7 linked regions of the Homo sapiens genome follow. The gene in region 2 interacts genetically with the main gene of each other region. Each region holds a gene or a part of one and is shown on either strand. Other genes may lie near its edges. The genes, in order: EED, EZH2, EP300, SEC24C, SREBF1, RICTOR and MAN2A1.

The links.
Region 1: changes in EZH2 (region 2) and EED together harm fitness less than expected from each alone (positive genetic interaction), as found in Homo sapiens cells (one large-scale study listed by BioGRID).
Region 3: changes in EZH2 (region 2) and EP300 together harm fitness less than expected from each alone (positive genetic interaction), as found in Homo sapiens cells (one large-scale study listed by BioGRID).
Region 4: changes in EZH2 (region 2) and SEC24C together harm fitness less than expected from each alone (positive genetic interaction), as found in Homo sapiens cells (one large-scale study listed by BioGRID).
Region 5: changes in EZH2 (region 2) and SREBF1 together harm fitness more than expected from each alone (negative genetic interaction), as found in Homo sapiens cells (one large-scale study listed by BioGRID).
Region 6: changes in EZH2 (region 2) and RICTOR together harm fitness less than expected from each alone (positive genetic interaction), as found in Homo sapiens cells (one large-scale study listed by BioGRID).
Region 7: changes in EZH2 (region 2) and MAN2A1 together harm fitness more than expected from each alone (negative genetic interaction), as found in Homo sapiens cells (one large-scale study listed by BioGRID).

What each region holds. Positions count from the first base shown.
Region 1 is NC_000011.10:86,265,253-86,268,752, reverse strand, and holds part of EED (polycomb protein EED), read right to left. Parts: intron 2,671-3,500; coding exon 2,537-2,670; intron 298-2,536; coding exon 192-297; intron 1-191. UniProt on the Homo sapiens protein: Polycomb group (PcG) protein. Component of the PRC2/EED-EZH2 complex, which methylates 'Lys-9' and 'Lys-27' of histone H3, leading to transcriptional repression of the affected target gene.
Region 2 is NC_000007.14:148,806,883-148,809,087, forward strand, and holds the end of EZH2 (histone-lysine N-methyltransferase EZH2), read right to left. Parts: coding exon 2,189-2,205; intron 825-2,188; coding exon 764-824; 3' UTR 501-763; downstream 1-500. UniProt on the Homo sapiens protein: Polycomb group (PcG) protein. Catalytic subunit of the PRC2/EED-EZH2 complex, which methylates 'Lys-9' (H3K9me) and 'Lys-27' (H3K27me) of histone H3, leading to transcriptional repression of the affected target gene.
Region 3 is NC_000022.11:41,155,092-41,158,591, reverse strand, and holds part of EP300 (histone acetyltransferase p300), read right to left. Parts: coding exon 3,479-3,500; intron 1,424-3,478; coding exon 1,184-1,423; intron 181-1,183; coding exon 92-180; intron 1-91. UniProt on the Homo sapiens protein: Functions as a histone acetyltransferase and regulates transcription via chromatin remodeling. Acetylates all four core histones in nucleosomes. Histone acetylation gives an epigenetic tag for transcriptional activation.
Region 4 is NC_000010.11:73,757,872-73,761,371, forward strand, and holds part of SEC24C (protein transport protein Sec24C), read left to right. Parts: intron 1-1,750; coding exon 1,751-1,923; intron 1,924-2,146; coding exon 2,147-2,515; intron 2,516-2,841; coding exon 2,842-2,978; intron 2,979-3,500. UniProt on the Homo sapiens protein: Component of the coat protein complex II (COPII) which promotes the formation of transport vesicles from the endoplasmic reticulum (ER).
Region 5 is NC_000017.11:17,816,487-17,819,986, forward strand, and holds part of SREBF1 (sterol regulatory element-binding protein 1), read right to left. Parts: intron 3,240-3,500; coding exon 3,052-3,239; intron 2,969-3,051; coding exon 2,834-2,968; intron 2,749-2,833; coding exon 2,527-2,748; intron 1,889-2,526; coding exon 1,774-1,888; intron 1,431-1,773; coding exon 1,210-1,430; intron 1,106-1,209; coding exon of another isoform or gene 1,062-1,105; intron 972-1,061; coding exon 770-971; intron 651-769; coding exon 472-650; intron 233-471; coding exon 1-232.
Region 6 is NC_000005.10:38,945,400-38,948,899, forward strand, and holds part of RICTOR (rapamycin-insensitive companion of mTOR), read right to left. Parts: intron 2,043-3,500; coding exon 1,865-2,042; intron 1,154-1,864; coding exon 1,069-1,153; intron 326-1,068; coding exon 92-325; exon of another isoform or gene 1-91. UniProt on the Homo sapiens protein: Component of the mechanistic target of rapamycin complex 2 (mTORC2), which transduces signals from growth factors to pathways involved in proliferation, cytoskeletal organization, lipogenesis and anabolic output.
Region 7 is NC_000005.10:109,692,927-109,696,426, reverse strand, and holds part of MAN2A1 (alpha-mannosidase 2), read right to left. Parts: intron 1-3,500. UniProt on the Homo sapiens protein: Catalyzes the first committed step in the biosynthesis of complex N-glycans. It controls conversion of high mannose to complex N-glycans; the final hydrolytic step in the N-glycan maturation pathway.

The sequences.
Region 1 (3,500 bases), on a different chromosome or scaffold from region 2:
TTCTTAAAACAAGTTTCTAAATATATCAAAATATGAGACTTTAAAAAAGGCAACTTCCCAGCTGCCATTCAATTTAATAAACTACATAAAGTGCTCCCTGCCAAGTTCCAACATGCGCACACACATACACACACACACACACACACACACACACACACGATGGAAGTACAGCTTAACTGCAGTTACCATACCTTAGAAAGTATCAAATCGCCTAACCATCGCACACAATCAACATAATTCCTATGTATGTCTCTGGTAGAAAAATCAGGAAAATGGATTTTCTGAGAAATAAATGGCCTGAAGGAAGAATGGAAATGTAAAAAGTTAAAAGAAAAAATTATAGTAGAATCATACTCTTTTTCATTTTTGGATTTATAAAACTTGGAAAAACAAAATGTAAGACTATTAATTCCTCTGTGTTCCTACATAACCAACCACCTTATCTATTTATTGAAAGCTAAAGTCTCATTCCACTTTTGTTTATTTTTCTCCATTATTATCCAATTTTATCTTTGTCCTATGATAGATACTTTGTTTATAAACATTGTAGTTTCCTGCGTTTTACTATATATAACCCAAAATTAATCACCTCAATTCTGGGTACCCTAACCAATAATAAAGGCCTGATCAGTTTCTCACTGAAAATATACTAAGCTACCTACTCAGTCCTTAAAATTAAGCATTAATAATCTATGAAAGTCAATATATCTACACTATTTCAAAAGATAGTCATCTTTCCAGGAACAACTAAACATCATTCCAAAGTCTGCTAAAGATACATCTACAGTCCTGCCTTGAGCAATAATTTCTGAAAATGATGCCTTACAGGAATTTAAAATTTCTTAAGTGGGGGTGGGTGCGGTGGCTCCCAGCACTTTGGGAGGCCGAGGCAGGTGGATCATCTGAGGTCAGGAGTTCGAGACCACCCTAGCCAACATGGTGAAACCCCATCTCTACTAAAAATACAAAAAAAAAAAAAAAAAAAATTAGCCAGGCATGGTGGCGGCCGCCTGTAATCCAGCTACTTGGGAGGCTGAGGCAGGAGAATCGCTTGAACCTGCGAGGCAGAGGTTGCAGTGAGCCAAGATTGCACCACTGCACTCCAGCCTGGGAAACAAGAGCAAAACTCCGTCTCAAAAAAACAAATAGAACAAAATAAAATTTCCTAGGACTTTTCCAAATAATTTCTGTATTTAGGAAACTAAATGGCAACACTGTTTTCATTAGAGATATTTGTGAGAAGAAACAAAACAAGCTGCTATTAATTCTGGAGTTATTTAACAGTACACTTAACATTCCTAATATACTCAGTTTTAAATCAGAAATAGCTGTATAAGTATAATATGCCATGAATTAGTTGTCTTAGGCAATTCATATGTCCTCTCTTTACCTTTTCCCTCAGATATGTAAAAAAGCACTTTGGATTGGAGCAACTCAAAACAATCCTTCCAATTCAAATTCTGGGATATTTTGTTGAAACATTAAAATGTTATTCGTGATCTGATATAAATTCTTAACTCTGCTATAATTATATTAATTGCTTTTTAGCTAAATACATACTATAATTGTATGGCCAAACCTCTCTCAAAGAAAAAACGAGTACAACTGTTATTTTTTGAAAACTCTGAAATATAGTTTGTATTTATTCCAGATATCTAGAAAATAATCTAAAAATATAAATTTAACATTGTCCTACTAGCTCCTGGTGTTTTAAAGGAGAAAGGTAAAACTTTTAATAATTCTTAGAGGACACTTAGGTCTGATGAATGTTAGTGCATTGAAATATTTACTGATGCTTACAAATTTAATAATCTATTAACAATCTGGCTTGATAACCAGAAAATGAATTCTAGCTCTTTGCTAAAACAAAAGTGCCAACAAAGTTAACATGCAGACATACAACGTTTATAGTGAAAGTGTTAATGACAGCCTGATAAGATTCTAAAGACAGTTACTGCATTAAGAATTGAGACATTTCAAAAATATACTAAGAAAACTGCAAAATTCCCCAACCTATAGTACCATGAAGTGAGGCTCCTGCATTTGAATTCTCTCCATTTAATCAAGTGAGCATCATTTAGGGAAAAACATTATCATGAATTAGAGCTAAGAACTCCATTGTTTAAAACTGTGGTTTACCATCTTGAATTAGAATTAGCATCATTTAAAAAAAGTTAACATTATTCTAAAGTGTCCTTTACTCTCCCTAGTCCATAATAAGCTTAAGTGATTTAAAACTTTTACATTTATAACTTAAAAGGCCAAGCATATGCATACCAAAATACAAATAAGTAAAATGTGCTACTAAGTTAAGATGACAACACAATTTAAAGGGGATTTTGAAAACTAAGCCACAAACACTGCAAATAAAGGACTTCTTAAAGGGGTGAATTTTACAGTATGTAAATTGTCCCTTAAAGTTAAAAGAAGGTCTTCTAAACTCATTGTTGGGGCTTATATAGCAATTTTGGGAAAAAATAAAACTTATATTCAATAGCACAACATAGCAAATTGTTTCAAATACCACAACTGTTACCTGTTAGTTTTATTTGGATTATAATCATAAGATTCCTTAATTGCATTCATCATTCTCTTTGAATTGATCCTCCAAAGTTTAAGAGAATGATCCATACCACAGGACATTATTTTTTCACCCAAAAGATCATAATCCTGTATGCAAAACCAAAAAGTTTTATATAAATTACAGCTCCAAATTATATTTATCCAATTTTTGCCTAATGTGCAACATAGTGAAAACTGTATTTCAAATCACAATACAAACTACATTTTGGGTTTCATCTAAATAGGCCATAAATCAGAGTTTACTACTTTCAAGATTTACAGCTTTAATTAGTTTGTCAACATCGGAATATAAGAGCATTTACAATGTATAAACCAAGAAAAAATTACTTAAACTTAGTTTTATCTATTCAATTACACTAAAATATTTATTTTGCTTATTTTGAAGGTAAATTGAATACTAAGTTAAAATAATTATTCTGACACAAAGAGCTGAATAGTGATATTACTTTTCCTATCCAACCTCAACCAACCAATGAAACTGACATGTGCATGTGAAAATACATGAATCCTTAAAGAGCTGACATCTTACTTTATAATTCTAAGTCAAAATATTTTGAAGTTAGTTTTAGAGTTCACTTTTAAGTGAATTTTTAAAAGTCTAATAAAAAACAGATTTTAACTTTTTTCATTTGCTGTTTACTAATTTTTAACAGGCATGTAACAGATCATCTATTGTAACAACCTCATTTCATAGGCAGACACTAAGGCCCAGAGATGCTATTTAATTTAGCAAAAGGCACATAATGAGTAATGAAAATCTCACACACCTATCCACCTCCAGTGAACTCCTGTATTACACAGAAGAGCTACATACTGTCTCCTGCTCTCATTCTAAGAAATAACAGTAGAGAGTTCTATTGAAGGAGTATATTTTCCTTACTAACCTAGATACTATATGTTAATCCAGCCTTTGCATT
Region 2 (2,205 bases):
CGTTTCCTTGACGCTTTCAGAGTTTGTGATTTTTACCTCTGAGAAGATATAAAACTACAGTTTGGTTATACCTATCAATCACCTTTTGTGATAAGGTAGGTAAGGAATCCCAACTTATATTGTGTTTGTTTCTAAAGAACTCTATCTAGACTAATGGAGTTTAGAACTAGGTACGTTCTTAAAAATAACCTAAAAGTCTACTCTGTCAGTTTATATATGGGGAACAGACTTGGAGGTTAAATCTCTTTCTCCAGGTTGCACAGCTGACTGGAACGTACCCACCCTGGTCTTGTCTATAAGATCAAGCCCTTTACTGGGTAAGCCCTCAGGATGCACAGCAGTGTTCTTCATATATGTCTTCCACATATTCACAGGCAGTATTAGTTAAATCAAGATTCATACAAAGACAACTAAAAAACCCAAGGAGTTAAATTTAAAAGTTTTTTGTTGAGCAGTCCTGAAAGCAGTTATTGACACGTTATGAGAGATGATTCAACAAGGACAAGTTCAAGTATTCTTTATTCAAAGTTGAAAAATGTACCATACTGCATTATTGCAAAAATTCACTGGTACAAAACACTTTGCAGCTGGTGAGAAGGCAATAAAAAGTTGATTTTTAAACTCATTACTATAAATTATTCTTACAGTACTTTGCAAATTCAGAATTTCAAACTGCATGTTCTTTTTCTAAATTGCCCACAGTACTCGAGGTTCCTGAAGCTAAGGCAGCTGTTTCAGAGGAGGGGGGAGGAGGTAGCAGATGTCAAGGGATTTCCATTTCTCTTTCGATGCCGACATACTTCAGGGCATCAGCCTGGCTGTATCTGAAACAACAGGAAGGAGATGTCCGCTGGATGGCCACCCATCCAACATGTGCTGAGACTTAACACAACAAAGCCTGCTGAAGATAGTGGGTGCATTAAAATGTCTTTAAAAAAAAAAAAAAAAAAAAAACCCATCCAATTACACAGCTGCCTGCATAACGGCACATTCATAGAAGGCAATGCATAGGTCTGTGTTGCTGGCCATCTAATTGAGACGCTGCCAAGTTCTGAAGTGAACAAACCTGTCTACAAGCATTCCCAGAGCCTGACCAGCCTCCCCTATGCCTCTGAAGCAAGTGGTCCCAGGAAGGCTGGTCCACATCAGGATGCTTAGGCCTGACGCTGGGAAGGCAAAATAGAACCATGGTCTGGAAAAAATGATGACCATAGCAAAGAGGGCCAAAGAGCAGCCCGCCAGTTGCTCCCCCAGGTGAAGCAAGAACTGGAGTGCAGCGGACACCCAGAGAGGAGCACAAGAAGCCCACCATGGGGGGTGAGGCCACCGGGTCATCCCAAGGAAGCTCCACCCCACACTCTTCATTCAGAGCCAGCCTGGAGTGAAGGCAGCGGCCTTTGCTAAAGTGGGCCCTTCACTCAGACCCTGTCTGCCTCACTGAGAGCTCGCTGCTGTGCAACAGCCATTAAAGGCCAGCCTGAATATGCAAGAACACAGTACTCAAAGACAGCTTCTGGATGGGATGTACACGGGGCTACAGGAGTTCATTAACTAGACAGTCATCTGACTGCACTTAAATCTGTATTCAATGGCTGACTTAAATGTATCCCACAGAGCTTGACAGTGTCAACTGGCAGCCTAATGCCTAACCACACAGATACCATTGGTGGCCCACGTGTCCCAGGCATCCCCACAGGGTGATCAGACAGCGATTTGCCAACAGCCCCTTTTAAAATGGTAATGATATGTGTAATAAGTATTATAGCAAACAATAAATTAAGTAGATCTAATCCATAAAGATATGCATAGTATATTGTCAAGTAAAACCATGTTGCAGAAAAATCTATAGGACAGTGTGATCGCACTTATCTGGAAAACGCTCCACGAGTGAGCATGCAGCATGCGGCATGATATGAGAAGGTCTAGGACTCACCCAGCTGTCAACAGCAGGGTGAGAAATGGGGCTTTCTGCATGGATTTTACTCTATTTTAAAAATAAGCATGCCTTGTATAATATATAAATGGATAATAAATACATAACAGGAAAGTGTAACCTAATTCCCCACTAATGCTCATGGCAAAGTGACCCATCAAAAGAAGCAAAGAACTAAAAACCCTCCTTTGTCCAGAGTTCACAATCCAGTAGAAAAAGCCCTTAGAGATCATGCTAGAAATGTACTTTACCAACCTGTAATCAAAAAACAG
Region 3 (3,500 bases), on a different chromosome or scaffold from region 2:
TGAACCATGACTGTATGTGTGCTGGCCCATCCGCATGCACTCCCTGGACATGTGGACACATGGACCATGGTCCACACCTGGCCAAGCTTACCTGTTCTGGTAACTGTAATAAGTGGCATCACGAGGTATTGTGCACAACTGTTTGCCGTAGCAACACAGTGTCTGTGGAGAGAACTCCAACTGCAAAAGAAACCATTTGTTAAAAAGCACAGAGGCCTTAAGGACAAGCTAGAACAGTAAGAATGGCAAGTCAGAAACAGAAGTCAGTGGTGTCTTAGTTCTCATTTATGTTAATAATGATGGGCTAATTCAGTTCCTGAAAATCATTCTCAGTTTACTACCACATTATTTCAAAACGCTGAGGTAGGCTTAGCAGTCATATCCTTCCATCACTTTACCAAAGAACCTAACAGGAATAGCTGGGCAGGGTGGCACATGCCTGCAGTGCTCAGAAGCTGAGGTGGGAAGACTGCGTGAGCCCAAGAGTTCCAGACCAGCTTAGGCAACACAGCAAGACCATAGTCTTATTTTAAAAACAAAAAACCAATAATGTGAATTGGTATGTACAGGAAAGCCAGCACATGCTGAGGAATCTGCACCCACAGGTGAATATAAGAATGCCCCTACTCCAGATGAGTTAACAGTCTGTTGATTATTTAATTAGTCAACTTTTCCATACAATTGCCACTCTGAAAAAATGCCTTTAAAGAAAGCCCATTTCATATTAAGAGATATTACTACTGTGGCACACAGTAAGAGAAAGACTGTGTTGGCTGGGAGAGGTGGCTCATGACTGTAATTCCAGCACTTTGGGAGGCCGAGGCAGGAGGACTGCTTGAGCCCAGGAGTTCAAGACTAGCCTGAGCAACATCATGAGACCCTGTTTCTACAAAACAAATTTAAAAAATCAGCCAGGCATGGTGGCGTACGGCTGTAGTCCCAGCTGCTCAGGAGGCTGAGGTGGGAGAATTGCTTGAGCCCAGGAGGTTGAAGCTGCAGTGAGCTATGACCTCACCACTGCACTCCAGCCTGGGAGAATAAGACCCTGTCAAAAAGGAAAAAAAAAAAAAAAAAAAAAAGCCATGTCAAAGCCAGAAGCAGGATATTCTCTTATCCCAGTCACCACTATATTATTCTAGGTATCCCAGAAAAGTTAAAGTCAAATCTGAAACACATTTCTTACCTTTCTGCCACAACAGTATCCAAGGCTTTGCATCACTGGGTCAATTTCTTGTTCAAAGACCTCAGAGAGCTTGGAGCAGTATTTGTATACCCGTGATGTTTTCCGGTTATATAACCAGGCATTATTGAACATAAGCCAAATATCATCGACATACTGCCAGGGCTCCTGATACTGTCCAGTGTCTAACTTCCTCTTAATGGTAGAAAGATCCATGGGGCTCTTCACAATATCAAAGTAATCCTAGAAAGACAAGTGACATCAAACATTACTCAAGTCTCACTATTTTTACGGGAGATGGAGTATCATCCATTATCATTGTTAATTTTCCAGGCAGTGTTTTAGTTTCTGGCCTGTCTATATTCCCCAAGAGGTGACTGATGTCCATCACTTCTTTAAATATTAGTTTACAGAGATATTAAACTACTCAAAGGGCAGAGAAACAGAACTACTATGGACTTTCTAGACATCAGGCTGATATTCTACTGAAGCAACTTCAGGTTCTTTATGAAAGTACATGTGAGATCAGTAAAGTCAAAGACATTTAAAATTTTAGTACTAGAAGGGGTGTACAATGAGGAAACTAAGCCCACAGAACTTAAAATGTTCCATCTGAAATCACAGCAAGATACAAGAGAGGAAAAGTCCTAAAAGGCTTTTGCCCCTGGAAGCACTTGACCTTTGAGATGGAGTCTCTGTCAACATGTTGCCCAGGCTGGAGTGCAGTGGTGCAATCTTGGCTCAGTGCAACCTCTGCCTCCCAGGGTCGTTCAAACTATTCACCTGCCTCAGCCTCCCAAGTAGCCAGGATTACAGGCGTGCACCACCACGCCCAGTTACTTTTTATATTTTTAGTAGAGATGGGGTTTCACCATGTTGGTGAGGCTGGTCTCCAACTCCTGAACTCAAGTGATCTGCCTGCCTTGGCCTCCAAAAGTGTTGGGATTACAGGCGTTAGCCACCGTGCCCGGCCAAGTAACAGTTTAAAACCACCAAATGAAATCTGCCAGCAGCCTAGTATATGGAGGCAACTTTAAAAACAAAGCTAACCACGGTCCTTTTTTCTGCTATGACCTATTGCTCTTGAAACAACGAAAGTGGCCGGGTGCGGTGGCTCACGCCTGTAATCTGGGCATTCTGGGAGGCCGAGGTGGGTGGATCATCTGAGGTTGGGAGTTTGAGACCAGCCTGACCAACATACAGAAACCCCATCTCTACTAAAAATACAAAATTAGCCGGGCATGGTGGCACATGCCTGTAATCCCAGCTACTCGGGAGGCTGAGAGGTAGGAGAACTGCTTGAACCCGGGAGGGGGAGGTTGAGGTGAACTGAGATTGCGCCATTGCACTCTAGCCTGGGCAACAAGAGTGAAACTCCATCTCAAAAAAACAAAAAACAAATAACAACAACAAAAAAGTAAACAAACTATATAACCCAGGAATTCCACTCCTAGGTAAATACCAAGGAGAAATAAAAACTTAAATCCACACAATGTTCACTACAGTCCTATCTTAATAGTCAAAACGTGTAAACAACCTAAATGTCTATCAACTCATCAACAGGTAAAGAAAAATAATGGAATATTATTGGGCTATAAATAGGTATGTGCTACTGATTCATGCTACAACATGGATGAACCTTGAAAACATTATGCTAAGGAACGTCCTGGCACAAAGAATCACATACTGTATGTTCCAATTTAATGAAACATGTAGAACAGACAAATCCAGAGACAGAATGCAGTCTGGTGATGTCTAGGATTGGGGTGCTATGGGAGAAAATAGTGAGTGACTGTTAATGGTAAAGGATTTTTTTCAGATGATGAAAATGAAAGTGTCATGCACAACTCTGTGAATATACTAAAACTCCCTGAATTAGGCCAGGCCCAGTGGCTCACACCTGTAATTCCAGCACTCTGGGAGGCTGAGATGGGCCTATTGCTTGAGTCCAGGCGTTCAAGACCAGCCTGGGCAACATGGCGAAACCCCGTCTCTACTAAAAAATACAAAAAACTAGCCAGGTGAGGTGGCACATGAATGTAGTTATCCCAGCTACTCAGGATGCTGAGGTGGGAGAATCACCTGAGCCCGGGAGGTGGAGACAGTAGTGAGCCACGATCGTGCCACTGCACTCCAGCCTAGGCAACCAGAATAAGACCCTGTCTCAGGGGGAAAAAAAAAAAATCACTGAATTACAAATTTGAAATGAGTGGCTATACTGTTTGGAATGTGAATTATCTCTCAATAAAGCTGTTATCAAATTAAAAAATAAAATCAAAAGTACCACCAAATACTTACAGGGATTCCTAAAAGCTGAGGG
Region 4 (3,500 bases), on a different chromosome or scaffold from region 2:
GTGAGTGCCATTGTACTCCAGCCTGGGTGACAGAGCGAGACCCTGTCTCAAAAAAAAAAAAAAAAAAAAAAAAAAAACGTAAGGCTGGGCACGGTGGCTCACGCCTGTAATCCCAGCACTTTGGGAGGTTGAGGCGGGCGAATCACGAGGTCAGGAGTTCCGAGACCAGCCCGGCCAACATAGTGAAACCCCGTCTCTACTAAAAATACAAAAATTAGCCAGGCATGATGGTGGGCACCTGTAGTCCCAGCTACTCGGGAGGCTAAGGCAGGAGAATTGCTTGAACCCAGGAGGTGGAGGTTGTGATGGGCCAAGATCGCACCACTGCACTCCAGCCTGGGCGACAGAGTGAGACTCTGTCTCAAAAGAAAAGAAAAGAAAAAAAAAAGTAGAGACAGAGTATAGACCTATTCTTTTGTAATGTTTAGCTAAAAGGGGAGCAAAAGTTTGAGGGGGCTGTGAGGTAATTTGGTTGGATTTTTAAAAAGTTTTTTGAGATATAATTCATATACTGTGCAATTCGTCTGTTTAAAGTGTTTTTGTATATTTAGTGGTTTTTAATATATTGACAGATATGTGCTGTCACAATTTAGTATATTGACAGATATCACTACAGTCAGTTTTAGAACATTTTCATCATCTGAAGAAGAAATACTGCATTCTTTAACTACCCCTGTTTAGCTATTCCCCCATTCCCCTATTCTTCCAACCTTAAGCAACTCCTGATCTACTTTCTGTCTCTAAAGATTTCCCTATTCTGGACTTTTCATTAGAATAGAATCATATACTATGTGATATTTTATAACTGACTTCTTTAATTTAGCATAATATTTTCAAAGTTCAACTATGTTGTAGTGTATATTAGTACTCCATTCCTTTTTGTGGTTAAGTGGTTTTTCATTGTGTAGCTACATGCCACATTTTGTTTATCCATTCTTCTGCTGATAGACATTTGGGATGTTTCCACTATAGTTGGTTTTTGTGTGTGTGTGTGTGTGTGTGAGATGTTTGTATGTTTTTGTGCTGATGGGAATAATCAGAGAGGGAGACACTGAATGGAAAGTATATTGGAAAGACACTGTGGTAGACTGAGGCGGGCAGATTCGTTGAGCTCAGGAGTTTGAGACCAGCCTAGGCAACATGGCGAGACTCCGTATCTATAAAAAATGCGAAAACTAGCCACGCATGGTGGCGTGTGACTTTCGTTTCAGCTACTTGAGAGGCTGAGGTGGGAAGATCAGCTGAGCCTGGAAAGTTGAGGCTGCAATGAGCTGTGATCACACCACTGCACTTCAGCCTGGGTGGCAGAGTGAGACCCTGTCTCAAAAAAAAAAAAAAGCTGGACAATCAATCTGCATTTGTTTGATTTCATATTTATTAAGGTTCATGCATGCTTATGCGTGCCTTCCCTTTCAGTGCTTTCAGGGCTTCAGATTACAAAACTGAAGAGGTTTGTCAAAGAATTGAAGCAGAGGAAGCAGTAATTTAGTTAGCAGAGTAAATAGTACTTGACCTGAAGGTGCTTGGTTTATGTTTGTGGAGTGAGCTTAATGGAAAACAAGATTTGCCATGAATAATCAGGAATATAATTTACCCACAAATATACAAAAGTATGAAGCCATAAAAGAACTCAGGGTGTGAGAGTAAGATGTCACAAAACAATGTAGCTTCCTGTATGATGTGACACTTCTGTAGACTTCAAAGGGTGTCCTGGCCCCACTAGTCACCTCTGCTTGCTTTCTTTTCACAGGCTGCCTGGGTCTCAGCCATTTGGGTCCCCATTGGCCCCTGTGGGCAACCAGCCACCTGTGCTTCAGCCCTATGGCCCTCCCCCGACAAGTGCACAGGTGGCTACGCAGCTGTCTGGAATGCAGATCAGCGGTGCTGTGGCCCCAGCCCCTCCTTCTTCAGGGCTGGGCTTTGGTGAGTGGCTGTGAACACAGGAATGTTACTGTCCCCTGTTCAGAGGCATCAGACTCTGGGGTTATACCTGAATCTCTTTTATTTCCCTTGTATTTCCTGTGCCTCTGAGCCTCAGAAGATGGGACAGTCATATTTGCCCCTCTTGTGTGGAAAGGGAAGTGATATACCGAACAAGGAGGCAGAATGACTGGGCTTTTGACTCTACCTTTATTCTACTTCTCAGGCCCACCAACATCGCTGGCTTCAGCCTCAGGAAGTTTCCCTAACTCTGGTCTGTATGGCTCCTATCCTCAGGGCCAGGCTCCTCCCCTTAGCCAGGCCCAAGGTCATCCTGGGATCCAGACTCCCCAGCGATCTGCCCCATCACAGGCCTCCAGCTTCACACCCCCAGCTTCAGGGGGTCCTCGGCTGCCTTCGATGACTGGTCCACTCCTGCCTGGACAGAGTTTTGGAGGGCCCTCAGTGAGCCAGCCCAACCATGTGTCTTCACCTCCTCAAGCTCTGCCCCCTGGCACCCAGATGACTGGGCCCCTGGGACCACTGCCACCTATGCACTCCCCGCAGCAGCCAGGCTATCAGCCCCAACAAAATGGTGAGTCTTTCCCAAGGTCTGTCTTAGAAGCTAGAGGCTTCAGCTACTCAGGTGGTTTTTGATGTTTTTTATTTGTTTGTTTTTAGTATTACTTGCTAAGTGGTGAATTAGATGGGTAGCTTCAGGGTATTATTCCTAGGATATGGGGTTTGTAAGACATTATTTTTTCTTGTCGTTCTGATAACATGGTATTTTTCTGAATGTCTTTGCCAGGCATTAGTGTGCCTCATAATTCTATGTTTTTAGGAGTCTAGTCATTTTCCTGAGGCCTTAAGAAGAGATAGGGATGGGATTTTGAGTTCATCAACCTTGTGTCCTTGTCTCAGGTTCCTTCGGACCAGCCCGGGGCCCTCAGTCTAATTATGGAGGCCCCTACCCAGCAGCACCCACCTTTGGCAGTCAGCCTGGGCCTCCTCAGCCACTGCCTCCTAAGCGCCTGGACCCTGATGCCATCCCAAGCCCTGTAAGTAGAAACTTTCATGGTCCTGAGGAAGGGTTTGTGTCTGCCAGATAGGCAGGTCAATCTAGATGAAATGTTTGCCTAGCATTTTCTGATAATTTTCCCTTTTTGTTCATCTTCTTGGAGAACTTACATATAATTTGATTCTGAACTGGAACTTGAGGTTCTAGGAGTCTTTTGGGGGGCTGTTTTACTCTATAGCTGGGCAGAGAAGGAAGGGAAACCAAGAGTGAGCAGCAGCACCAGTAGATGTCTGAGGGCTGCACTCTGTCACTACTGTACATACATAGTATAGTAGCCTTTGTCCTTCTGTGGAGCAGTGACTGGGTCTTGTCCCCTTAGATCTAGAAGGATGGCATTCTTCCTAATGGGTAGAGCAGGTGGGAATTCTCTGATGTTAGATGTTAAGAGAAGGAAAGCCTCACTGGTTTCTCTGCTCTTACTTGGACAGTTTTAGGAGGAAGTCCCCAGTACTTTTGTTTGGTAGGCTTCTGCTGTGTGGATGGGGAAGAGTGAACGACAGTT
Region 5 (3,500 bases), on a different chromosome or scaffold from region 2:
AGACCAGGGCTGCGTCTCGGGCGCTGGCGCTAGCATCCACTCGCAGAGCACAGTCCTGCTGCAGGCCCCCTGCCCGGCCTGCCAGCCAGCGGCCCACCCAGAGACGCTGCAGCAGGTGACGGATGAGGTTCCAGAGGAGGCTACAAGCCAGGTCCAGGTGGGAGGTGGGCAGGGGCCGGCCCAGTGCCCGCAGGGCCAGCCACAGCTGCTGGGCAGCCTGGGCAAAGTCTCCCTGTGGATGAGGGTTTTCCAGGTGAGAAAAGTGAGGTCAGAGCAGCTGCCCCAAAGCTCAGAAGAGCCGTCCACAGCAGGCTCTGGAGGGGTGGTGGGGGTCTGCGGATGCGTGGCTAGGCACAGGGAGGACGGGACAGATTCATGGTGTGCACAGGGAGCAGGAACAAGGGTTGACACCCAGCACCTTCACAGCCTGGGGTCCCTGCCCTGCCCACTCTGCCGGGGCCAGCCCCTTACCCGGGCCAGGTCCAGGTCAGCCTGCTTGCGATGCCTCCAGAAGTACACGGCGGGGCCTGAGTGGGGCCGTGTGACTGGCTCACCGTAGACAAAGAGAAGCACCAAGGAGACGAGCACCAACAGCCCATTGAGCAGCCAGACCACTGGGGGCAGCAGCCACTGGGCCCAGCCAGGGCCATCTATGGACAGAGGGAAAGCTGGGGACACAGCTCCCAGGAAATCCAGAGCCCCAAGTTCACAAGCCTGGGGGCTCACCCCGAGTGTCCCTCCCAAAGATGCCCAGGCTGGCCGGTCCCACCTCTGCTCTCGGTGCCCAGCACGTTGCGCCCAGGGCTATGGTAGACGCTGGTGGTATCTGAGGGGCTGGGAAGCCCCCGGGCCCCCAGCAAGGAGGCCAAGGGGTTGCAGGACAGGCAGAGGAAGACGAGCGTGCACAGGGCCAGGCGGGAGCGGTCCAGCATGCCCCGGCTGTGCAGAGACGGCCGCTGCTCTGGCTTTGCCTGGTGGGGTTGGGCAGGGTGGTGAGGGCAGAATCGGAGGGACCCCAGAGAGCATGGGGCTGGGAAGGGGGGGGTCAGGATTCTGCCCACCTTACTGTGGGACCCCACGTGGCTCCAGGCCTCAGTTATTCTGTCTATGAAATGGGAGGTAGGATCTGTTAGGGTCTTCCCGGCCCTGTCATGAGGCTCAGAGGATATGGCTGGGAGTGGGGAAGGGGGCACCGTGGCAGGGCCCAACCTTGCTGTCCTCAAAGACTGGGCTGTCAGGCTCCGAGTCACTGCCACTGCCACCGCTGCCACTGCCCCTGCTGCCAAGGGACAAGGGGCTGCTCTGGAAAGGTGAGCCAGCATCCGAGGGGGGTGGGGTCAGTGTGTCCTCCACCTCAGTCTTCACGCCCTCCATGAGCACGTCTGTGTTCCCTCCACTGCCACAGGCCGACACCAGATCCTTCAGAGATTCTGTGGGCCGAAAGGAACAGAGCCAGGAGTAAAGGCTGGATATGTGACCCCAAATCAGAGCCTAGGCCCTTGGAGGCCTAGGGACTACTGTAGCTCCTAAAGCTAGCCCAGGACGCTTTGATGGGGCTGGGTTAGGGCCAAAGGGAGGCACCAGGTCTCTTTCAGGACCAGAGGTAACCAAGGGACTAGAGCTGAATGCAGGGCTACAGCCAAGGGTGAGGTGGGCAGGGCAGAGGGTGGGCCAGAACCAAGGGTGGGGTGGGGCTAGGGATGGGGTGGGGCCGGGAGGTGGAGCAAGGCTAGAGAAGAGGCCAGACTGGAGCTCAATAAAGCCAGGACTCACTGCTTTTGTGGACAGCAGTGCGCAGACTTAGGTTCTCCTGCTTGAGTTTCTGGTTGCTGTGTTGCAGAAAGCGAATGTAGTCGATGGCCTTGCGCAAGACAGCAGATTTATTCAGCTGCACGGTGTGGGAGGGAGGGGGAGCGCACAGGTGGCCTGTCAGGTCGGGGGTTGTGGGGTTGGAGAGCCCTAGCAAGGGGGTGCGGAGCTGCTTTGCAACATTACTGCCTCAGGACCTTTGCACTTGTTCCTTCTACCTGAACCGTTCCTCGCCTAGTAGCACCCACCTCCCAGGCCGGGCATAGGGTTAGAATGTAAGATGCAGACAGCAGGGTCTGGCTAGCTGCTGCTGTGCCTGCCGCCATCTCAGGGAGGCCTTCCCTGGCTACCACCAGGGGACCCTCACCATCCTCTTCCTGCTTTCTCTGCAACGAGCCAAACGTGGTGGTCTCGAGCACTTATTCATCCTGCCTACTGTCCATCTCCCCCACCAGAAGGTCGGCTCTTCTTTGAGGGACAATTTTTGTCTGTCTTGTTCATTGCTGCATCCCCAATGCCTAGCACAGCCCCACCTTTATTGAAGAGGCCTGCAAACCAGTTTAACTAAATAAACGAGGCTGGCCAGGCCTGGGGAGGCTGAATTCCAATTCCCTGCTTGTCCAGGCTCAGTCTCACTCCCTCTCTTCCTTCCAGTTGCCCCTGATCTGTTCCTTCCTAGGGACACCCCGGTCTGTGCCCCTGCAGGCCTCTCCACACCTTTGCCTCAGTGCCCACCACCAGATCCTTGAGCTCAATGATTTTGTCATTGATGGAGGAGCGGTAGCGCTTCTCAATGGCGTTGTGGGCTGTGCGCTTCTCTCCACGGCTCTGGGCAGAGGCCGGGGCCTTGCTGCCAGCTGCGAGCCGGTTGATAGGCAGCTTCTCCGCATCTACGACCAGTGGGACTGTTGCCAAGATGGTTCCGCCACTCACCAGGGTCTGCAGGGCCAGGCACATGTTACCAGGTGGGCATGTGTGTGTGTGTGTAGACCCCACTCCCTTATGCCCTGCCCACGTCACCCACCGGCAAAGGCCCTGTCTGCACAGTGGTGCCAGAGACCAGGGGACTGAGACCTGCCGCCTTCACAGTGGCTCCGTCTGTCTTCATGGCTGTCAGAAGCAGCGAGTCTGCCTTGATGAAGTGGGGCTGCAGCAGGACCTGAGGGTGGGAGAGGCTTGGCTGTAAGCTGTGTGTCTGGGCTGGGGCTGCCCCCTCCCCAACCCCTGGCCAGACCCCCTCACCGGGACCTGCTGGATCTGCGAGGTCACAGTGGTCGTTACAGGGGCTGCCGTGGGGGCAGCTGTGACTGTCAGTAGCTGCTGGGGGACCACACTCTGGACCTGGGTGTGCAAGGAGACGGGCGGGACCCCTGGCGGGGAAGCCAGTGGCAGGCCAGGCAGCGGCTGCTGGGTGTTCCCGGGAGGGCTTCCTGCAGAAATAAAGCATGGGGCTGCAGACACAGACCTCCCTCTCCCACTTTCAACCTGCTCTTCAGGTCTCTATCACCGACTGGCCTTGGATGAGTCATTGCCCCATGTGGCTTCCTATGGACAGTCCCTGCCTGGGCTCTGATGCAAATGCACTGGCTTCAAGCCAGGCCTCCAGTGCGAGGTTGCGCCTACCCCGGCAACAAGCACACCAGGACTGCTAGTAACAGGGCATCTCAAGCAGCCGAGTGGAGCCCCAGTTT
Region 6 (3,500 bases), on a different chromosome or scaffold from region 2:
GAATTAGAATACCAAAAAGAAATTTGGAAAAGTAAACCAGAGAACTTTAGTCATCACTAGGTTTTTCTGAAGGTGGGACGTGATCACTTACCTGAATGACTACATATTGCACTCAGTTGGTTGCTGGGCTGGAAACCCAGAATTTCAATACAGACACAATAAAGGCAGTTATCATCTGTATGTTCCTGTAGTCCAGTGTCTTCTGTACTTTCTAAAAACAGAGAGGCATCTGAATGGATTGAATTCATTATTTCCGTAAGACTCATCTGCTGTCGTAGCAAGTGAAAAGAATTTTTTACAAGACCTCCAGTTCCAGATGGAAGACCTGTGCATAAGTAAATATAAAACATAATCCAATAAAGATAATACTTTTCAAGGTACCTTAAATTATGTGAAATTTTAAAGAAAGCTTAAGCACATTTTATGACTCAAAATCTAACTGGAAAGAAAAAAAGAATAATTTGCTTTAAGTTATAAAAATAAGGAAAGCCAGCAGATGTTTATTATTTTAATATATAGTGTTTTAAATACAAAATGGAAAATTGAGATTATATAATACATCATTTCAATTATCGTCAATATTTGCCTAAAGATATGTAATAATTCTAAGTATAAAGAGGCATTTGTTTAAAAAGTCATTAAGAATATAAAGCTATAAAACCTGTGGCTTATATTTACATATTAAAATATAACAGTTCAAAACAAAGACCGTGTATTTTATAAGTACATTTCTTTCTCCTTACTCTAAACAAACAGCTATTTCCTGGATCTATGAGGATTAGTGTTATACATTGTTCATGTGCTACTTTTAAAAAACAGAAACAACTAATTTGGTTTCTATTTCCTTGAAAGGTTGAGTACTTCACTGAAAACACTGTTAAGTCCCTCACACATACACAAAAATGTGGTTTAATTTTAAGCTGACTTTAACAATTGTTTTGGTATAATTTTAAAGTTGATCCAAAAGTGAGTCTTCCTAAATTTTTAGTGTTATCCTACTAGAAAGAACTAAGAGTTTTCTTTTTAATATAAAGAGGCATCTCACAAGTACAATGCACAATGCATTACCTCCTGCATCATGGGCAAATGCTCTTGCACCTCGATCATCATGTGGTGGTATGTTTTTTGTCTGAAAATAGGGAATATCCTTTACCTAAAAAAAGATATAAACCATGGTAAGTCCTGCTATAAAAATAAGCCCACTTTATGAAAATTAGCAAAATTAAACAAAATAAAATTAAAATAGAATTACCATAGCATATGAACCTATAATCAAGTTTACTGAAGGTTCAACTACCAAAACTTAACAAAATAACCCAAAAAGTCCTTATTATATTATTAGTGACTAAATGGACATTAATTATTTTAGCGTTTATCTAAAATGTCTTTCAACTTCTAAGAAAATGTGTTCTTTAGTACTATATACCATCTAGAGATCTGTGGGTATCTCCTGGGATTAGGGTCACCTTATATTACTGGGTACCACATATGGCTGGCTACCTTTTATGGGATAAATAGGAATGAGGATTTAAAAATGAGGTATAAGTTAAATGTGACTAAAAAACAAGTTAGAAATTTCATAAATTTCTACAGAGAATATATGGATAAAGAAATCAAATGAGATACTGATTTAATATGGGAAGAGAGGGAAGGATAATGTTCTAAGGACTAAATAAAAGAGTACAGAGTAGTTGAAAAGGGCAAAATAATTTTAATCTTAAAGTTTCTTTAAACAAAACGGTCTTAAAAATCATGCTGCCCCAAACTGGTGCCCACCCTAAATTATGATTTCTAGTAAGCAGTTACAGCATATGAAAAAATAGGAAACCAACTCATAGGAAAACAATAAAATGTATGATAATACCTGGAATATATCATTTATATCCACCGGGAGAGCAAGACCAATGTAATCATCTGAACCCCCATATGTGGCACTGGACACCATGGACCGCACTGAGGAAGATCGTTGCAGGGTATTTTGATTAATAGGACTCAATAAATCTTCTTTATCTAATGATGCATAACTTAAGGCTTTCATGAACCTATAAAACCATAAAGAAACCACTTGCATTAGTTTCTTGATCTGTAATTTTAATCATATGAAGAAATAACATATATTCCTACCTTCATAAAAGACAAGTAGCTAGTCATGTATTAAGCAGTGTCATCTTGTTTACTGGCAACACATAAACACTTTAAAATATTAGCTGTTATAGACCGCTATGTAAAAGGTCACCAGTAATGTTGACTGTTACCAAAAACAACTGTTATGGTCTCTCAGGTAAAGGTGAAAAGGTGGGCAATTAGAATAACTTTCAACATCTAGAAGTAAAAAAAGAAACTGACCTCAGTAGTCAGAGCATGGTCCAAGGACTATCTTCATAATCACTTGAGACTACTAGATTTGGCATTTATGTAACTAAGGATATGTGTATCAACTCTATTTAATATTATATTTATAAAAAATGAGATCAATTACATATCATTATTTGTGTGATAATTACCTTAATGCCTTCATTATCAACATAAGATTTATGTAGCACACAAGACAGACACAAGAGCAAAATGGTCATTTATGACGAGATATCCTTGTAAAAAGCACTGATATTTCCACAATGTACTGATATTTCCACAATGTACTCCTTACTACTAGAGATTCCATAACAAATATGATACACTGATATTTCCATAAGATACATGTTTCTCATACAGATTCTTACTTATGCAACAGACATGCTAAAATATTTACTTGGTATCTGCTGTATATATACAAGGCACTATGCAAGGTTCCACATTTATATACATTTATATGAAGATATTTTTGTTTGGAAAACCAAGTCTTTAAAATGTACGAATGCAGCCTAATATTAAATCAAATAATTATTTTGTAAAACACACAAAAGAAATGCTTTCTAAATAGTAGCTATTAACATAGCAAAAACCATGCTCCTAATTTCCACCCAAAAAACACTCTTTCAAACTGTAATCTGTTACATTTCTTTGGTTCCCATAAAACTCTTCAAGGATTACTGGAGTGGGAGGAAAACAATTATTGGATTATTCCCCTTCCCAATTCCTATTTCAACCAGTATAGGTCCCTTTCTATCTATTCTACCTATTGGGTTTCCACAGAAATCTTTATGTGAAAAAATAATTTCTCTGCTTAAAAAACAACAATACAAAAGTTTACAACCACTGATCTAGTGCAATCTCCACCAGATGAGGTAACTGAGGCTTAGGAATGTTCAAAATTCATGAACTTTACTGCATAGATTTGTAACAGTGAGCTGTTGAGAACTTTCCCTGGCTTTGTCCTGGACAAGGTTGCCAAAGCTAGTGAGTTCCAGATAGATGAGACATTGCTGCATAATTTCTTAAATCCTGTAAGGGTACACAATTCATTGTCTGCTACCAAGAAACCCTCTATTAAATGTGTTAAGCATTATTGAAACAAAACTGCTTAATGTTATTAAGAATAATGTAAGGGCTAGATGGATTAC
Region 7 (3,500 bases), on a different chromosome or scaffold from region 2:
TTTAACATTAAGATATTTAAGAGATACCAACCAGGCGCAGAGGCTCACGCCTGTAATCCCAACATGTTGGGAGGTCAAGGCGGGCAGATCACGAGATCAGGAGATCGAGACCATCCTGGCCAACATGGTGAAACCCCGTCTCTACTAAAAATACAAAAATTAGCTGGGCATGGTGGCTTGTGCCTGTAATCCCAGCTACTCGGGAGGCTGAGGCAGGAGAATCGCTTGAACCCGGGAGGTGGAGATTGCAGTGAGCTGAGATTGCACCACTGCACTCCAGTCTGCCAACATAGTGAGACTCCGTCTCAAAAAAAAAAAAGATATATACTAGATACCTACTATCCACCTGTCTGCATAAAATATAATTACCTTAAACAGGGCACTCTTTCAGAAAAGCTATGATATGACCTCAAGTGACAGAGTTCATCAAACCAAATGATTTACTTCCTCCCTATTATAGGCACATTTAGCTATACTCACTAAAGCACTAGATGTGAGCTCCATTTCAGTACAATTAATCCTCAAACCTGTCTGAATTTAAAAATGGTTTCAAACTTAAAAATAGCAGCTTGGCTTGATAACTGAAACAGAAACCCATTTTAGTTAAAATGTCCTACTTCCTCTCCTGATTAACCTACTAATAACAACTGAGAAGCAAAAATCACTATTTTAGAGTTCTTCCTCCTTGCCTTAGTTCTGCTCAAACTTTTATAAAAGCTGCTGCTATCAGGAACTTTTACCAAGACAGAAGGGATAAAAAATGCAATAAGGCCTTTACAATCCAGCAAATACAGGTCATCAGAGCTGCTAAATATCCTTTCATTTTCTTAAAGATTACAGAAGTTGGAGAACAAGGGAAAACTAAGACTCCTGAATGCAAAAAAAGCTAAGAATAAACCAGGTGATCAGCAACAGCTAGTGAACCACTCATTCCAGGAAACTCTCAACACTTCAGTCCTTCAAAAAAGACTAAAGTTTTCAGTTATCACAAAAAGCAATAGCTGACTCAAAAACAAATAAAAGTGGTCATTTTAGCCACTATTTTGCCCACAGCCCAGACACCTCTTAATGCAAATTAAAAGCTAAGAGAGAAAATCCCCTTCCAATAATACAATTGTGACATCTCCCTGACAAAAATATTTGTTTAGGCCCTGATAACAGTGTTCATCTGGGAACAACACACCCAATTCAATTTAAAAAAAACAAAAAACAAAACATAAACTACTATCTTCAGACCACAGACAGTCATGAGTATCTGGCCCAGTTGGTTTACAGGAAATAAGTTTGGGTCTTAGTGAAAAATGCTGATCAGGAAGAGACCCACAGGGCTGTTGGACTGAAGAGGAGTTAGAGGACACCATCCTCAAAAGGCTCTAATGTTTGTTCTTGCATTCCTAAATGCTGGATGCACTATCAACGTTCCATCACTTCCCAAAAAGCACAGATCTCCGCATTATATCCCAGAAAATAAGACAATCTCCCTCATACAAACGTGAACAAACCCCAGCACCAAGTGCTATTGTTTATAAATAGACTGCACTCAAGGAAGGGGAAGGAGATCATATTTTCCTTATATGTCATTCTTAAGTAAGATTTACAGATTTATGAAAGCAAGAAAAAAACTGGGGAATCAAAGTCCTAGTTATATGTATTGCCATGAGTCAACTTTCATTAATAACATCTACTATGCTGGACTCTTAAGTACTACTGATGTAAAGTATGTAAGCACATTTCTGTATGTGTATTACAGTAAGTTAAAAAAAAAAAACACAAAAGGCAACTGGGAGCAGTGAATCACACCTATAATCCCAGCACTTTGGAAGGCTGAGGCAGGAGAATAGCTTAAGGCCAAGAATTTGAAACCAGTTGGTCAACATAGTAAGACCCCGTCTCCACAAAATAAAAATTTTAAAACTGGCTGGGCACAGTGGCATACACACCTGTAGTCCCAGCTACTCAGAAGGCTGAGGTGGGAGAATGGCTTGGGCCCAAGAATTCAAGGCCACTGCAGTAAGCTGTGATTCCATCACTGCACTCCAGCCTGGATGACAGAGCAAAACCCTATCCCAAAGAAAAAAAAAAAAAGGTATACAAGTTCTCACCTTCTAATGGCTTTCAATCAAATGCTTATTTAAAGGCATTCTCACTTTCTCACTTGATAAATGTTACATAGGCAAAAAGATAAAGTTTTAACTTCACTTTCACATTTTCCATCGGAGTCTCAATTTCCATATTTTAAGAGTTAATATTAATCTCTACGGTCATATGCTACACTAATTACTTAAAAAGTGATCATTTGTTATACAAAACCTGACTCATTAATTTACTTCTCCAGATCCAAACATCAGACTAATTAATAAGACAACCCTATTATACACACCATAGATAGTAAGCACCTTGTGAAATCTGCTTGTAAGAAGTGATGACTAATTTCAGGGAGACCTTAACAAAGTTTCTCCTTTCCATCTGCTCAAATTCTTCCAAGTTATCATAAAGCATTTTCAAGACATTAGTCTCTGACCAACCTCTCATTCACAGTGGAATTTTTATTAATTTTCTTAGCTGAGATTTATTAACCCTGAAATATACACACAAGTTTCAACAGATTAGGCCCCCTGTTGCCTCTAGTCCTCCAAGGAATTCCTCCCAGAAGCAGAAGCAAGGCTTCGGAGTGCTTCAGGATAGACTTCCAAAGAATATCTTAGAGGCAGGCAGCTGTTCCGGGGTGAGAGAAACTGGAGCACCCTCGGCCAGCCCACTCTTGCCCCAGAGTCCAGCCAAATGGTGGAAAACACCAGAGTTGTGAGAGAAGAGAAAAAGAACAAACCCCCGCTCTCCAAAAAAACAACAAATAGATTGCTCTCAATCTAGGATGGTCTTTAAAAATATCTTGTTTACAAGATAGACCTAAAGCCTAGTGAAGGTTCCGTATCAACTGAAACCAACTAAATGGGCAATTTAGAGGAACCCAATACCTATCTAAATAAACCGTTCTACTAGATACCAAAAAATGACACATAGTGACCGACCTGCTTGGCTCTACTAAAACTCAAGAATTCAATACCCAAACTTGCCAAACAAATGTATTGCAACCTCCTTTTGCTATGTTTGGTATTATTAAGAATAAGTTAGAAGCAGTGAAAAAAAAAAGAATCAACTCAAGTTCTGGATGCTGGACTACACAATGGTTTTCATTATAATGTTTAGCTCTGAAATGAGCTCAAAGACATTCTGGGAAGGGTATAAATCTCTAGCAGTAAATGTTTCAGAAAAAGGACCATATTCATTATGGCTTCAAAATAAAAGTTCCTTTAGTCATAAGCTAAGGTACCAGAGAGCAACATGCTCTATACAGGGGGCAACCAACCCCAGGGCCATGGACCTGTTAGGAACCAGGCCACACAGCAGGAGGTGAGTGGCATAGCAGGTCAGCAAGCATTACCGCCTGAGCTCCACCTCCTGTCAGATCAGCAGCAGCATTAGATTCTCATAGGAGCACG